Regions from separate parts of the Homo sapiens genome. Here region 1 is linked to region 2. The links come from fine-mapping of genetic effects on gene expression. Tissue or cell type: whole blood. Region 2 holds a variant in brackets; the other region holds the start of a gene. All regions are shown on one strand. Distances are from middle to middle.

Region 1 (8,000 bases), 40 kb after region 2:
GCTGATTACAGCGTCTTCTGGGACTCAGATGTCTTAAGATGTAGGCTTTCTACTAGCAGTTCCAAAATGGATTGGATGTAGCCAAATCATCTGGGATACTTATTAAGTTTCCTGATTCCTGGCACTTTATTTAGATCCATTGACTCTACTCTTAAGAGGTTGGGCCCAGGAGCTTGCATTTTTAATCAAGTAGGTAATTCTGATGCTCAGTCAAGTTTGAGATGGTAGTGTTGTCCAGAGGGCCAGATGTATCTGTGACAGTCAAGAAGTAGTCAAGAGGGAACCCAGGAGTTCCCATGGCCTTGGGTAGGAACTGCCTCAGACTTGCACCAGCCCACAGCGGTAGTGTGGGTTTCTTTACAGTTTAACTGGTACACCCGCCGAGCCATGCTGGCTGCCATCTACAACACAACAGAGCTGGTGATGATGCAGGACTCCTCTCCAGACTTTGAGGACACTTGGCGCTTCCTGGAAAACCGGGTTAATGATGCAATGAACATGGGCCACACTGCCAAGCAGGTAGGTGGGGACTAGCCATTGGGGAACCCTCTTTAGAAGGCATACCTATTCTCCTCAGGTCACAGCTGGTCTTGCTCCCTTTTGGCCTCAGCTGACAGTCCTGAGGGCCTTCCCAAGGGCCTGGCTGGTTCTTCCTCAGGCCAGCCCTTCCCTAAGAGCCACACTTTGCTCATTTGCATTTGTGATTGTGTTGTCCAAAGCTCTCCTTCCAGTAACGTGGCCCCCTTGTCTTCACCTTTTGGGGCTCATAGGCCTCCTGATTTGTCCTGCCTGTCTCAAGTTTAACTTTGTGTTGGTGGCCTAAGGGAACCTGACACTGACTCCTTCTAGGTAAAGTCCACAGGAGAGGCACTGGTGCAAGGACTCATGGGTGCAGCAGTGACGGTGAGTACTGCCCAGCACATCCCTGCCCCTCCTCTCTCCCATTCCGGCTCTGTGATACATGTGTTACTGACTTCACATCATTTTGTAGCCCTAACCTGGAAACAATAATCTAATAATAAGGCTGACAATGGTTCAGCCCTAGTGTCTTGATTCCAAAAACCTCACTTCTTTATTTTTTCCTGTCATCAGGAGATATCACTGACTCCTGGGACCCTGGTATATCAAGTCTCTGTATCATAGCCACACCTGCCACCTTGCAAACCTGGATCTTGGCCAGGTGCAGTGGCTCATGCATATCATCTCAGCGATTTGGGAAGATCGCTTGAGCCCAGGAGTTTGAGGACAGTCTGGCCAACATAGCAAAACCCTGTCTCTATGCAAAAAAGAAAAAAAAAAAGAGAAAAAGAAAAGCTAGGTCTTTTCTATTAGAGTCTAGAGGCAAGGTAAGCCCTCACTATTCTCTTTATTTCCATTCCCGTGTCAGCTCAAGAACTTGACAGGTCTAAACCAGCGTCGGTGAGAGGAAGGGGTATAAGCTACAATGCCTAGAAGAGAATGAGCGGACAGATTGAAAGAGCTTTGAAAAGTATAAGGTGCCATCCACATAACCTGGTGTTCACGAGAACACACTAAAGGACTCCTGAGTCACTACCACAGCCACCTGGAAACCACAAGGCATTTGATGCTACCGTTCTGGTCAGGGATTGGGCTGCTTCTTCAGTTCCTAATACCAGACCAAGCCTCCTGATGCCTTTCTGCACTGCAACTGTGTGATTGAAAAATGAGATGTTCATCCAAGCAGTCAAGCCACAGAAACCCAGCATGTCCCTGTCACAATCTCATGGGCACCTTGATCATGTCTTAACCTTCCCTTAACCTTGGGGCTCCCAAGCCAGAGTCAAGGTCTGACGCCACCTCAAGGTGACAGCTCATCTCCAGCACAGCACAGGCGTGTGCACACAGAGGTGTTCCTTGCAGCCCCCTCCCTCTCAGGTGTCCTGAGATGCTGTTCCTGGGAGCCCCCTCAGAAAACTGCCTCACCTGAGACAAGTGCCTGCTGGACAGAGGTGTGATTCCAGGCCTGGTGTCACATGACACCAGCATGCATTGCAGGATTATTAGTGTATTTTGAGTCTGTAAAAATAATAAATATGTTTGAAGTAGTTTCCCATTGTGTAGTTAGTTTCCTTATCAATCATGATAGGTATCCAGGACCCCAGAGGGAGACAGGTTAAGTTATGGCAGCCAGGAGACCTGTGTTCTGGCGCTGCCACTGCCTAATACATAGTGGTAATTATAGTACCTCTGCGTCTCTGGGCTCAAGTCTTCCCATCAGTAAAATACGGGTAACAGAAGCCTTCCCACAGACCATCAGCTCCCTTGGCTGCTCTTGTCTGACGATTTTAGTGGTACATTCTTTAGCCCCAGTAATTTTCTCAGCCTCTACACTGGCTGGGTTCCCTTTGCACGTCTGGTTAGCTCTGTTTTCTGCTTTGCTCTCTTCTGCCTGTCAGCTGAATATTAATGGGGGAAAGTCAGCAACTAATTGAATTTCAGATCTCTTGTGGGTCTTCCACTGGATCTTTTTTGCACCTCTCAATTCCTTGTATCTCTTGACATCCTGTGAAGTTTTCGCAGTAGCTGTTCCAGTTTTCATTGCATTCTCCTTTTTCCTTCATAGCATCCATCTTACACTCAGCAGACAACCATAATTCTTAATTTACCAAGATGACACAGGTTATGGAGCAGGGTTCCATCAGTGCCCACCCTCTGTTTCAGGAAGAGGTGTCACTCTTTGCAAAGGCAAACTCCTCTTTATCTGGTTACTCTTCTCCCAACTCTTAAATGTATTTCCTGCCACGTTCTATTTTAGAGCTTTTCTCTGTTGGAGCAGCAGCCACTTTTTTTGAGGCCCATTTAAACCTCTCTCCAGTCTGTTTAGGGGACTTCAGTAGTTCTTTGTTGAGCATGCACCCCACATGGTGCCCACTGCCAGGCACTGGGGATGCAGAGACAAAGAGTTCCCACTCACCCACCACAGCTACACAGACTGTAGAGGAAGCATTAGGTTAAAGAACATTGTATCTTTTCCTGAAGTTTTCAGAAGTGCATGGTCCATACTTGAGACTGCAAGGGAAAGGGTATTTACTTATAATTCAGGTATACTTTGCTAAAATATACATTCATATTAAAATATACTTTTGTTTTTCTATAGATGTACAAGTTCTTTTTAAGTGCTTCATAGTATTCCATGTGTGTATACTCCACCAGGTCTCTTATCAATGGACAGTACAAACAGTACTACCACGAACGTCCCTGCACTCGTATCTTTGTTTACAACTGCAAGTGTTTCTGCAGTATGAATTCTTAGAAGTGTTACTGTTAAGTGAAGGACGTATGCGTGTTTTGCCAAACTACCCTCCGAGATAGCTGAATCTGGTACATTTTAAAGCAGGAGGCCGCAGAAGACGCTCGGCAGTTCTGGCCTCCGAGCAGCAGGCGGCGCTGTGAGTCGTCTTTGCGGAAGCCGCGGAGGCCTCGCTGACTGACTTCCGGTGTTGGCGGTGGCGCCGCGCAGTCACCGCGGAGCAGACGCGGAGGCTGGTGGCCCCTGGGCGAGATGCCGTACGCCAACCAGCCTACCGTGCGGATCACGGAGCTCACTGACGAGAATGTCAAGTTCATCATCGAGAACACCGACCTGGCGTAAGGCTACCGAGGGAAGAGGCTGGCGGCTCTGGGGCGCCGGGAGGCCCAAGCCGGGGCCCCGGGGCAGGGGGCGGGGGTGTAGTGGGGTGGGGTGGGGGCGATGTCCTTCCAGAGCTGCCCCCCTGCACCAGGGCTTTAGCTTTGGGAGCCTGCGGCGCGGGCCCAGCCTGTCGAGGCTGCAGCGCCTTCACGCCCCTTGGCTTTTGATCTTTCAGGGTGGCCAATTCGATTCGGAGGGTCTTCATCGCTGAGGTTCCCATAATAGGTAAGCGACTCCCCTTCCTCGTTCCCGCGCCCACGGGTTCCTGCCCCGCTCTCCACCCACACACTCTTTGGGGCTCCTTCCAGTCCTTGGTTCGGGCTGAGGGTGGTAGTGCTGAGAAAAGTGCATTGCTGGAGACTTGACCATACCCTGTGCCCTTGGCTCAGTGGCCGCCTCCCTGGCGCCCACGGGCCACTTAGGTCCACCCTTGTCCTGGGTATGCATTGCTGAGAAGCATGGGTTTAGCAGTGTGCAGACTTGGGTTCAAATACTGTTTTCACTACTATTGTTACAAAAGTTTTTAAAATGTTTTCAACTTTTATTTTGGAGTCAAGGGGTACATTGGTGCAGGTTTGTTGCCTGGGTATAGTGCGTGATGCTGAGATTTGGGGTATAAATGATCCTTTCACCCAGGTAGTGAGCATAGTACGCAATAGGTAGTTTTTCACCCCTAGCCCCACTGCCTCCCTTCCAGCTCTAGTAGTCACCAGTGTGTTTATTGTCATCTTTATGTCCGTGCGTACCCAGTTTTAGCTCCCATGCGGTGTTTGGTTTTCTGTTCCTGTGTTAATTCTCTTAGGATAATGGCTTCCAGGCCGCGCTCGCGCCTGTAATTCCAGCACTTTGGGAGGCCAAGACTGAGGAACACCTGAGGCCAGGAGTTTGAGACCAGCCTGGCCAACATGGGGAAAGCCCGCCTCTACTAAAAATGCAAAAATTAGCCAGGTGTGGTGGCTCCCACCTGTAATCCCAGCTACTGGGGAGGCTGAGGCAGAATTGATTGAACCCAGAAGGTGGAGGTTGCAGTGAGCCGAGATCATGCCACTGCACTCTGGCCTGGGCAATAGAGTGAGACTCCTTCTCAAACAAAAGAAAATAAAAAAGAAGATAGTGGCTTCCAGCCACGTCCATGTTGCTGCAGAGGACATGATTTCGTTCGTTCTTATGGCTGCATCACTTACTGCTTTTGTGAAACTTGGGCAAGTTATTAAACTTCTGTGTGCTGCAGTTTCCTCATCTGTAACATTCGGCCACTAATGATCCTTATCAGGGTAATGTTAAGGATTAAGTGAGGTAATCCATATAAGTGCTTTGTGTTTAGTGAGTGCTCAGTGCTGGTAGATGGCTTTTTTATTAATCTATTCCTTCAACAGCATTTATGGAGCATGAAAGTGGCAGGCATGGTGGTAAGCTCTGGGAATGCAAAGCTGTAGAGAACAGGGTTTTTGCCCTCATGGAGTCCACAGTGAGGTTGTAGGGGAGAGATGAATCCACAGACAACACTAAAGCAAGGTAGATTTTGATCAGTAGTTCAGGAGAAGCATAGCTGTGGTGCACTTGGCTCTTAGAGGAGGGAAGATCAATTTCTGGTCTGGTTCCAGCCACTCTGCTCCAGGTGCTTAATGCATTGATTATACTTGTATGAAATACTTCAAGCATTTCTGAGAGTCAGCTCAGAGAGTTTGGATTAGGCAAAATAAATATAAGTCATAGCTGTGGCATCAAATATTCAGACTTTTAAGGAAATAAGCAGGCCAAATGATTAGGCAAGAGAACATTGTAGTTTATCCACTACCACCACCACCCCACCCCCCCGCCCCCCAGTCACTTCTTAAATTCAGCTTGGAGTGCTGGACCTCCCCCTGCCTAAGCACTTCATGCCTCTGGACCTCAGTTTCATCAGGAGTCAGGTGAGGGAGTTGTACTTCATGATGCAGCCCTGCCATTCTGAGTCTAAATGCCTCTTTCCCAACAAATTCAGTTCTACAAATAATATTGAGCACCCATGCTAGGAATACAAAGACATCCCAGGACCTGCGTGAAGGAATTTCTGAAGCTTGAGGTATAGACATAACATACACAAATATGACACAAGGCACACTATGACAAGTGTCTTGAGGGAAGTCTGAACAGAGTTTTGTGAGAGAGGAGTTGAAAGGGAGGGAATGTCACATCTGTAGCATAGAGAGCAGGCAAGGCTTAGTTTTCAGGAGGCACAGAGGATCTTAACCTGTACAGCAAGGAGGGGAAGGGTGTGCTGGAGGGAAGGGCTGGGGGATTAAAGAGGCAGAAAAGCTTGGGTCAGGGTTCTCTCAGTTGGCTTGGACTGGGGAAGCAATGGGAAGCATAGCAGGACAGAGCAGGTGGAGGCCTGGCAGGGGGAGGTCCTCTTCCGACCGCTGTTCCTAGTGTCTGTGTCCCTCGTTTGGCAGTTGGGCTCCAGTGCCATTTGATTCCTGGATTTAGTTGGTTCCATGCAAATGTTTATGAATGAATAAATGTGTGTTTAAGTCAAGCATGTGTGATCGATAATACAGTCTTTACCCTCCTACGAGCTCATTGCTGCTAGGGATTGGGTTCTATATTTAGTATACTTTGCGCATTAAAAGAATTCAGTAAACATTTGTTGATTGAGTGTTTAAAAAGTGCTAAGTTGGGCAGTCCAGTCATTATATCCTAAAATGAGGTATGGCCCCATAAGTCTGTGTTGCTTCTGTGAGGGTTTCCCTGACTTTGAAGTGCTCAAATAGTTCATGTTCTTGGATTTAGTGGTGGCACAGGTAGCAGATTTAAGTGCTTCTCATGCAAATACTCAGCTCAAATAAACATGTTTCCACTTCTATGATATTCTATAAGTCAGTGTTTTCTGTGAAGCAGGGAGCCCCCTGCATTAAATTCACCTGGGCAGGGAGGTGAGGTGTGGTGTGTGTGGGTCTTATTAAAATGCAAGTACCTGGGCCCCACTCTAATGCTGTGGAATCAGCCCAGCAATCTGCAGTTTAGTGTCAGGTGATTCCTAAATCTTGAGAACCACTGCATTAAGTCTGTAGGTAAATTTGATGGCTAAACTCCATGTCTGCTTCTTTCATTTTTTAGCCATTGACTGGGTTCAGATTGATGCCAATTCCTCAGTTCTTCATGATGAATTCATTGCTCACAGGCTTGGTGAGTACTCCTTTTACTAGGAGGTTAAAGGGAGGGTATTGTGCCTAGTGTCAGGAGGGGGCCTCCTTCCAGCCTCACCCCCAGAAGGCTTCTGGGTTCTCATTTTGGCTTGGCTGTTTGGTTTTCTTTAAAGTGCTTTTCTGTTTTTTACAGGATTAATTCCCCTCATTAGTGATGACATTGTGGACAAGCTGCAGTACTCTCGGGTATGTTGTGTGATTGGGTGGAATGTGAGGTTTGGTGGGGAGGCTTTGGTTCTCAAAGGGATTTTTCCTGACATTTGGCATCCAGCTTGAATACTGTTGTAGTTCTGGAACAACAACGTGGAGATGTTGTCTAGAGCCTGGGCAGGCCTTGGTCCTGCGTTCTGATGGGGCTTCAGATTGATTAGCACGCAGAACATCAGGGAGTGTTGTTAGGCAGCTCCACCACAGTGCCCATTTATACTTAGAGTGGAGGTTCTTCCTTCCAAAGCATCTCTTCCCAGTAGCAGGGGCCTTAGGATGCTACAGGAGTCAACAGAAGGTTGGGGTAGGCAAGGAGCAGAGGGAATGGGAGCTGTCTCACAAGAGCAGCTCCTGGGGGACTAGTCCTGGTGTCTGCAGATTCATGCTGTCCCCTCCCTCGCAGGTGATGCTGCTTAAACATGGCCACACTCTTAGTGTCTCACCCCCTTCCTCCTGGTCGTGTTTGCTCCCTGATGGCATGTTAACAGGCCTTCAGAGTTTGGAGAGAGTAGGATAGGAGTCGGTTACCTTCATCCTTTCACTAGGCTGCATTACACAGCAGCTTAAGGCTACTCCCTCTTGATGGCTTTGGGTGATCCAGAATCAGTCCATTTTCTAATATTCTCAAGGGCCATGTCATTTTTGTGATGGCTAATTTGATATATCTTATAAATATGTGTGTATTTTTAAAAAAGAAATATTCAGCTGGATGCAGTGGCTCACACCTGTAATCCCAGCACTTTGGGAGGCCGAGGCGGGTTTATCACGAGGTCAGGAGATCGAGACCATCCTGGCTGACACGGTGAAACCCTGTCTCTACTAAAAATACAAAATATTAGCCGAGCGTGGTCCCGCTCCCAAGTAGTCCCAGCTACTCGGGAGGCTGAGGCAGGAGAATGGCATGAACCCGGGAGGCGGAGCTTGCAGTGAGCCGAGATTGCGCCACTGCACTC
Region 2 (8,000 bases):
TTTGATTTATACATTTTCATCAGTGCTGCTCAGGTGAATTCCACAAGGGGCACTAGTGGGGAAAGAGAAATTTCCTGGGGAGCCCTAATAACCCGGCTTGAAGCATATTGCATCTCCAAACGTGGAAATTAGAATTGGGTTGTTTTCCAGTGGCCCACCAGAGGGCACTCTGCTCTTAGGAGGAAGTTCTGAGGCTGATGCGCCAGGGGCCCTGACCCCACCAGCCAGACTCCGGCCCCATCGCTGTCCCCAGGGGCTGGGATCAGCCACATCTGGTTGTAGCTGCACTAGGCCTTGGGGCAGGGGTGTCTGTAGCTGGCCGGCTCTCCTCTTGTGGGAACAGAAGCAAAGAAACCGCCAATTACACTGTCTGGGGTTTGCTGGATGAAGAGGAAGAAGGAAGAAACCCTGCTGGGACTAGCAGGGCCACTAACTCCAGACGCAACCTGGGCAGTGCCAAGAGCTGTGGGCTGGGGTGTTTCACTGTGTTTTCTTAGAGACTGTATTTGGTCTATTTGGCATCCATTTATCACAGGGCCAAATCACAGGGCCAAAAGCATTTATACCTCCCCTGCAAGCTGGTTTTTGCAAGTGTTTGAAAGTAATAATAGTTACAAACCCTCCAACCAATCCCAATCACAGGCCCCCCAACCATCTCTATTTAACTCTCACACCAAGCCAGTATTTCCCCTGCCCTAAATCACCCAGAGCCAGGTAGAGACAACTAGGGACGGCCCCTAAGCCCAAGGCCCCCTGGAATTATTCCAACTAGCCAGACCCGGGCTGCTTCCCCTGGCCTGCCTTGCACTTCGGGTGGAAACCCCACAAAAGGCTGTGGCCTGTGCTGTTCTGATCCTTCCTTTCAGCCTCCTGACCAAACTTGGTGCTCCCCCTGTGGCCCCGTGTGTGGTCCTGCGTGTGTGCCATGCCCTGTTCTCCTGGGAGATGCAAGTGATGAATTCTTTCAGTGTCCTTGGTCGCTCTGTGTTGTCACTCAGTCACCTCCATCAATTCAAATCCTGGGGGTACATTTTAAATTTTTTAAATTGATGCATAGTAATTGTACATATTTATGGGATACATATGATACTGTGACACAAGCATACAATGCATAGTGATCAGATCAAGGTAATCAGGATATCCATCACCTCGAACATTTATCATTTCACTGTGTTGGGAACGTTTCAAATCTTCTCTTCTAGCTATTTTGAAATATACAATAGGCTGGGCATAGTGGCTCACACCTGTAATCCCAGCACTCTGGGAGGCCAAGGTGGGAGGATCACTTGAGCCCAGGAGTCTGAGACCAGTCTGGGCAACATAGTGAGACTCAGTCTTTACGAAATGCACAAATTAGCCAGGCATGGTAGCATGCGCCTGTGCTGCCAGCTACTCAGGAGGCTGAGGTGGGAGGATCACTTGAGCACAGCAGGTCAAGGCTGCAGTGAACTGTGATGGTGCCACTGCACTCCAGCCGGGGTTACAGAGGGAGACCCTGTCTCAAAAAGAAAAAAAAGGCTGGGCATGGTGGCTCACGCCTGTAATCCTAGCACTTTGGGAGGCCAAAGTAGGTAGATCACCTGAGGTCAGGAGTTCTAGACCAGCTTGGCCAACATGATGAAACCCCATCTTTACTAAAAATACAAAAAAATTAGCTGGATGTGGTGGCTGGCACCTGTAATCCTAGCTACTCGGGAGGCTGAGGCAGGAGAATCGCTTGAACCCGGGAGAGGTTGCAGTGAGCCAAGATTGCACCATTGCACTCCAGCCTGGGCGATAAGAGTGAAACTCCATCTCAAAGAAAGAAAGAAAGAAAGAAAAAGAAAGGAAGGAAGGAAGGAAGGAAGAAAAGAAAGAAAGAAAAAAGAAATACACAATAAATTGTTTACTATAGTCACCCTACTGTGCAATCGAACACTGGAAATTATTCCTTCTATCCAGCTGTTTGTTTGTACCCATTAACCAATCTCTCCCCATCACCCCTCTCCCCTAAATAGAACTACCATATGATCCAGCAATCCTACTACTGGGTATTTATCCAAAGGAAAGGAAATCAATATATCAAAGGGATACCTGCACCCCCATGTTTATTGCAGCACTATTCACAATAGCCAAAATATGAAATCAACCCGTGTCCATCAATGGAGTAATAAATAAATAAATTTGGTACATGTACACAACAGAGTACGATTCAGCCATAAAAAAAGAAGGAAATCCTGTCATTTGCAGCAAAATGGATGGACAGTCATTATGTTAAGTGAAATAAGCCAGGCACAGAAAGACAAATATCTCATGTTCTCACTCATATGTGGGAGCTAAAAAAAGTTTATCTTCGAAAGTACATTTTAACACAAAGGGTCAGGGACCTGTTTGGAGTCTCTGCTTTGCCACTGACTGGCCGTCGGACCTGGACACATGCGCCTCACCTGCCTGAGCCTCACCTGCCTGAGCCTATTTCTCCATGAAGCAATGGAACTGGACCTTCTCTCACCTGTTTGGGGATGTGCCAATATGGCTACTCCTCTACCTCTCACATCGCCCTTAGCGGACCACAGTCTTAGAAAACCTGCCGTTTCTGGTCGGACGCAGTGGCTCACAATCATGAGGTCAAGCGATCGAGACCAGTGTGACCAACATGGTGAAACCCCGTCTCTACTAAAAATACAAAAATTAGCCAGGCATGGTGGCGCGTGCCTGTAATCCCAGCTACTCGGGAGGCTGAGGCAGGAGAATCACTTGAACTCGGGAGGCAGAGGTTGCAGTGAGCCGAGATCACGCCATTGCACTCCAGCCTGGGTGACAGAGTGAGAGTGAGACTCTGTCTCAAAAAAAAAAAAAAGAAAAAGAAAAGAAAAGAAAGAAAAGAAAACCTGCCATTTCCTCATAATTGAACTGCCATCACCTGGATATTCCCTGTGCCCTTCTCCAAAGCCAGCATGGCAACCACGGGGGTGAAATACTCAGACGAGCAAAGGGATCAGGGCTTTAAGAAGCCAGCCTTCAGCCAAGCATGGTGGCTCACACCTGTAATCCCAGCACTTTGAGGGGCCGAGGCAGGCGGATCACTTGAGGTCAGGAGTTCAAGACCAGCCTGGCCAACAGGGTGAAACTCTGACAGTACTAAAAATACAAAAATTAGCTGGGCATGGTGGTGCATGCCTGTAATCCCAGCTACTTGGGAGGCCGAGGCAGGGGGATTGCTTGAACCTGGGAGGTAGAGGCTGCAGTGAGCCCAGATCAGTCCACTGCACTCCAGCCTGGGCAACAGAGTGAGACTCTGTCTCAAAACAAACCAACCAACCAACCCTGACCAGTACTCCTCAAAATGATCAAGCTCATCCAAAACAAGGAAAGTCTGAGAAACTGTCACAGCCAAAAATCAGCTTTCAAAGGACTTGTTAAGTCCTTGCACATACATGTTCATGGTGGGATATTTACTACAGCACAAAGCTGGAAACAGCCCAAGGCCTATCAACAGCTGAATGGATAAACAAAAGTGGTCTAACCATATAAGGAAGATTTTTCTGCATGGATACGCCCTACGATATGGGTGAAGCTCGAAACACTCTGTTAAGCTAAAGAAGCCAAACGCAGAAGGTCACACAGTGTATAATTTCATTCATATGAAATGTCAGAAGTAACTCCATGGAGTCAGAACGCCCACTGGTGGTGACCAGAGATGGTGGGAGAGGAAGACCGGAAGGGACTGCTTACTGGGGATGGGGTTTCCTTTCAGGGCAATGAAAACATTTTGGAACTAGATAGAGGTGGTGGTTGCACCACACTGTGAATGTACCAAATGCTGCTGAATTGTTTATTTTAAATCGTTCATTTTATGTTATGTGAATTTCATAAAAAAGACATATTCAATATTCACTTTTCTGTAGAGTAGCAGGCTTGGATGAGACAT[A/G]TATCAGCTCAGGACAAAGGAGTCCTCTGGGAGGACAGCGAAGGGATTTTGCCACTGCTGTATCACTTGTGTACGAAAAAAAGGAGTGATCAGAATCACACACAGCAAAGCTAGTTGTCTATTGGAAATTCTCTGTATTTGAAATCTTTCATGATTTAAGAGAAAAAATGTTTAAGTAATAATAGAAAATCAAAAAGGAAGGAAGGAAGGAGGAAAGGAAGGAAGGGAGGGAGGGAGGAAGGAAGGGAGGGAGGGAGGGAGGAAGGAGGAAAGGGAGGGAGGGAGGGGAAGGGATGGAGAGAGGAAGGAAGGAAGGGAAGGAAGGAAAAGGAAGAAAGGGGAAGGAAGGGAAGAGGAGAAGGAAGGAAGGATGGATGGTGGGAGGGAAGGGAGGGAGGGAGGGGGAGGAAGGGAGGGAGGGGAAGCAATGAAGGAGGGAGGGAGGGAAGGAGGGGAAGGAAGGAAGAGAGGGAAGGAGTGAGGGAGGGGAAGGGAGGGAGGGAAGGAGGGGAAGGAAGGAAGAGAGGGAAGGAGTGAGGGAGGGGAAGGAAGGGAGGAAAGAAGGAAGGAAAGAAAGGAGCATTCTAACCCAGCTGAGTCTGAACGCAGTCTCCAGATCAGCACAGAGGTTTGCAGAGGTGAAAGCCTCATGCTGGATGGTGGGCCACGGGTAACCAATGACCAGACCACCAGCTTGACCACCAGGAGTGACCACTGAAGGTGAGATCTGAAGTCACTGAGGGCTGAGTGGGGGCTTCTGTCCCTGCTTTCCCCGAGAGGGGTGAAGTAAGAGCCACCCAAGAGCTGCCCCATCCCCACCCCTACTTAGCACAAAGCTATTTTATACATTTGTGTAATTTGTAGCAAAAATTTTGGTCACAAACAGTATTCACCTGCTCTGTGACAACCTTCTCCCTCTGTTACTATTATTCTGAGGCAGCTTTATATATATAGATGCCGTACTAGTTCCACTTTAAAAATTTTGCATGAGATGATAACGGGGTCAAGTGTTCCACAGAGGTTCGTGTCGGGGAGAAGCAGGACTTTGTCCTGGGCTAGCAGTATTCTTCTTAAGACCCAGGGTTTCATGTGAGAGGTTTTCAGGTTTTTTCAATGAAGTTTCTTAGAAATACAAATCCACTGGTCGGGCGTGGTGGCTCACGCCTGTTAATCCCAGCACTTTGGGAGGCTGAGGCGAGTGGATCACCTGAGGTCAGGAGTTCAAGACCAGCCTGGCTAACATGGTGAAACCCCGTCTCTACTAAAAAATACAAAAAATTAGCCGGGCGCGGTGGCGGGCGCCTGTAGTCCCAGCTACTCGGGAGGCTGAGGCAGGAGAATGGCGTGAACCCGGGAAGCGGAGCTTGCAGTGAGCCGAGATTGCGCCACTGCAGTCCGCAGTCCGACCTGGGCGACAGAGCGAGACTCTGTCTCAAAAAAAAAAAAAAAAAAAAAAAAGAAGAAGAAATACAAATCCATCATGTATATAGCAGGTATACAAACACATAAAAATAAACACTTGTATACCCACCGTCCAGCCTAAAGAAATAGAACTTTCCTGCTGATGAAGTCCTGCCTCTTTCTCCCGTCTCCCTTTGGAGCCAACTGTGGTCCTGAATTATATCATTCCCCTTGAGCTCTTTATTAGTTTTGTCACACACATACATGTGTGTATACATCATGTATATGCACATATGTATGTGTATATCCTTAATGACAGGCTGATGCATCTGGCATGTTTTTGAACTTTATGTAAATGAAATATTTCTCACACACACACACACACACACACACTTCTGTGACTTGCTTTTGTGGCTTCTGTTGCTTCGTGATTCTTCCATGTTGAAGTGCACAGCTATAGCTCATCACTGCTGTGCAGTGTTCCACTGCTTGGACGCACAGCTCATTCATTCACGCTCTTGTTAATGGACATTTGGATTGTCTCTTAGAAGTACTGCTGCTTTGAATACTTGTCTCCTGGTGCATGGGCCAAAGAATTTCTCTAGGGCAGTGGTTCTCAATCCTGGCTGCACTCTACAATGACCTGGGAGAGCTTTGCAAAAATGCTGATGCCCTGGGCCCTACTCCAAGGGATTCTGACTGAATTGGGTTTTGGAGAGGAAATCCAGGAATAGGCTTTTGTTTTGTTTTGTTTTGGTTTATTTTTGGAAGCTATCCAGGTGATTCTAATATGCAGCCAGTGTTCAAAGTGACATGAGGGTGACATTGCCCAAAGTATCCCTACCAACAGGGAGTTCTCACCCGGCCACATTTTCACCAATACTTGGTAAGGTTTCTGTTTAGCCTTCTCCCTGCCACAAGGACAGGCAGCTGGGCTGTTCACAGTCTCTCTTCTCCAGTGCAGAGACCAGGGTGCTTCCAGCATGCCAGGCTCCGCTGTGGGGTTCTCCCTTCAGCCCCACTGCCTGCCTGTGCCCTTGGACCCCACTGTTACACACGAGGGCCCATTCTGCAGCTCAGGGGTATCTTCATCTGGAGCAGGTTTGCACCCTCATCTGCTCTCCCTTCTCTCCTGTCCACACTCTGGCTCCAAAGCCTCTGCTCTCATCTCCTTCCAAGTATTTTGTGGTTCTGTTTTGGCTGCCTCCTAACCCCAAGGAAGGTAATGGTTTGTCTCTGCTGTCCCCTCCATTTACTGATTTTGAATGATTTCGGAAGGGGGAAGTCCCAAATGTACACTGCCAAGTTCTAAGCTAGAGACTTTAGAAAACTAAAAAAGAAGAAATATTACACCCCCAGCCCCATCTCGGTCCACATTGGGCTGACTCAGAACATCCAAGGACATCAGGCCTCAGTACTTTTTTTTTTTTTTGAGATGGAGTTTCACTCTTGTCACCCAGGCTGGAGGGCAATGGCACCATCTTGCCTTACTGCAACCTCCGCCTCCTGGGTTCAAGCGATTCAACTGCCTCAGCCTCCAAAGTAGCTGGGATTACAGGCATGCACCACCACACCTGGCTAATTTTTGTATTTTTAGTAGAGGTGGGGTTTCACCATGTTGGCCAGGCTGGTCTCGAACTCCTGACTTCAAGTGATCCACCTGCCTCGGCCTTCCAAAGTGCTGGGATTACAGGTGTGAGCCACTGTGCCGGGCCAGGCCTCAGTACTTTATTTTTTTGAGACGGAGTCTCGCTGTGTCTCCCAGGCTGGAGTGCAGTGGTGTGATCTCGGCTCACTGCCAGCTCTGCCTCCCAGGTCCAAGCGATTCTCCTGCCTCAGCCTCCCGAGTAGCTGGGACTACAAGGCACCCACCACCACACCCGGCTAATTTTTTGTATTTTTAGTAGAGATGGGGTTTCACTGTGTTAGCCAGGAGGGTCTCAATCTCCTGACCTCATGATCTGCCCACCTCAGCCTCCCAAAGTGCTGGGATTACAGGCGTGAGCCACCACACCCGGCCAGGCCTCAGTACTTTTAAGAGGTGCTCAGGTGAATGATGGCAGCAGGTTACCCTCCCAGTCTCACCCTTTCCTCAGATGTAAGATGAGGTTGCATTCAGTGATTATAAGAGCCCATGTTGGCTCCAATACTGTGAGCTTGCTGAACGCTGAAACCTCTAGCCTGTCTGGCTGTTGCCTCACTGGGTGCAGGTGTAGGTGCAGGTGTGTCTGAGCCCCCGGCCCAGGTGTGTCCTGCTGATTGGCAAGGACTCTTCCCTCACTCTGGGCCCCAGACTCCGAGCTAGCTGGCTTGCCCCGGACCCTGTGGAGTGACACGGCAACTGCCGGCATAAAATCATTAACTATGCCAACTGCAGCAGACAGGAGATGGCAGTATCCTTTTTGCCAGCAACAGCTGGGACTCAGAGCAAGAATCGGCGAGGGCTTGTGGCATTTGCTAGGCCTGTCCAGGAAGCTCTGGCTCAGGATCTCTTGTCCTCAACATGGAGGTTGAGATTTTTGTCCTTCATATGGGCAAGTGCAGCAGAAGCAACCAACAGTGGCCCTGCAGCTTAATAATTATGTTACTATCGGACCAGGCAGTGGCTCACACCTATAATCCCAGCACTTTGGGAGGCCGAGGCAGGTGAATCACAAGGTCAGGAGTTTGAGACCAGCCTGGCTAACAT

The links. PIP is the estimated chance that this variant, and not a neighbour inherited with it, causes the effect.
Region 1: it holds the start of POLR2C, and the variant in region 2 is fine-mapped to the expression of POLR2C in whole blood (TOPMed, PIP above 0.99).

Annotation. Positions count from the first base shown.
Region 1 is chr16:57,459,202-57,467,201 of GRCh38, forward strand. It overlaps POLR2C (RNA polymerase II subunit C), which reads left to right and starts at 3,478. Exons shown (of 9, transcript NM_032940.3): 1 at 3,478-3,609; 2 at 3,828-3,877; 3 at 6,752-6,820; 4 at 6,974-7,026. The coding sequence starts at 3,524. It overlaps COQ9 (coenzyme Q9), which reads left to right. Exons shown (of 9, transcript NM_020312.4): 7 at 364-519; 8 at 850-903; 9 at 1,388-2,069. The coding sequence ends at 1,423. RefSeq lists an enhancer at 3,336-3,630.
Region 2 is chr16:57,418,876-57,426,875 of GRCh38, forward strand. No RefSeq gene overlaps it. Among named protein-coding and RNA genes, the nearest start is that of CCL17, 18 kb to the left of the region's middle. The variant A/G (reference allele first, on the strand shown) is at 3,911.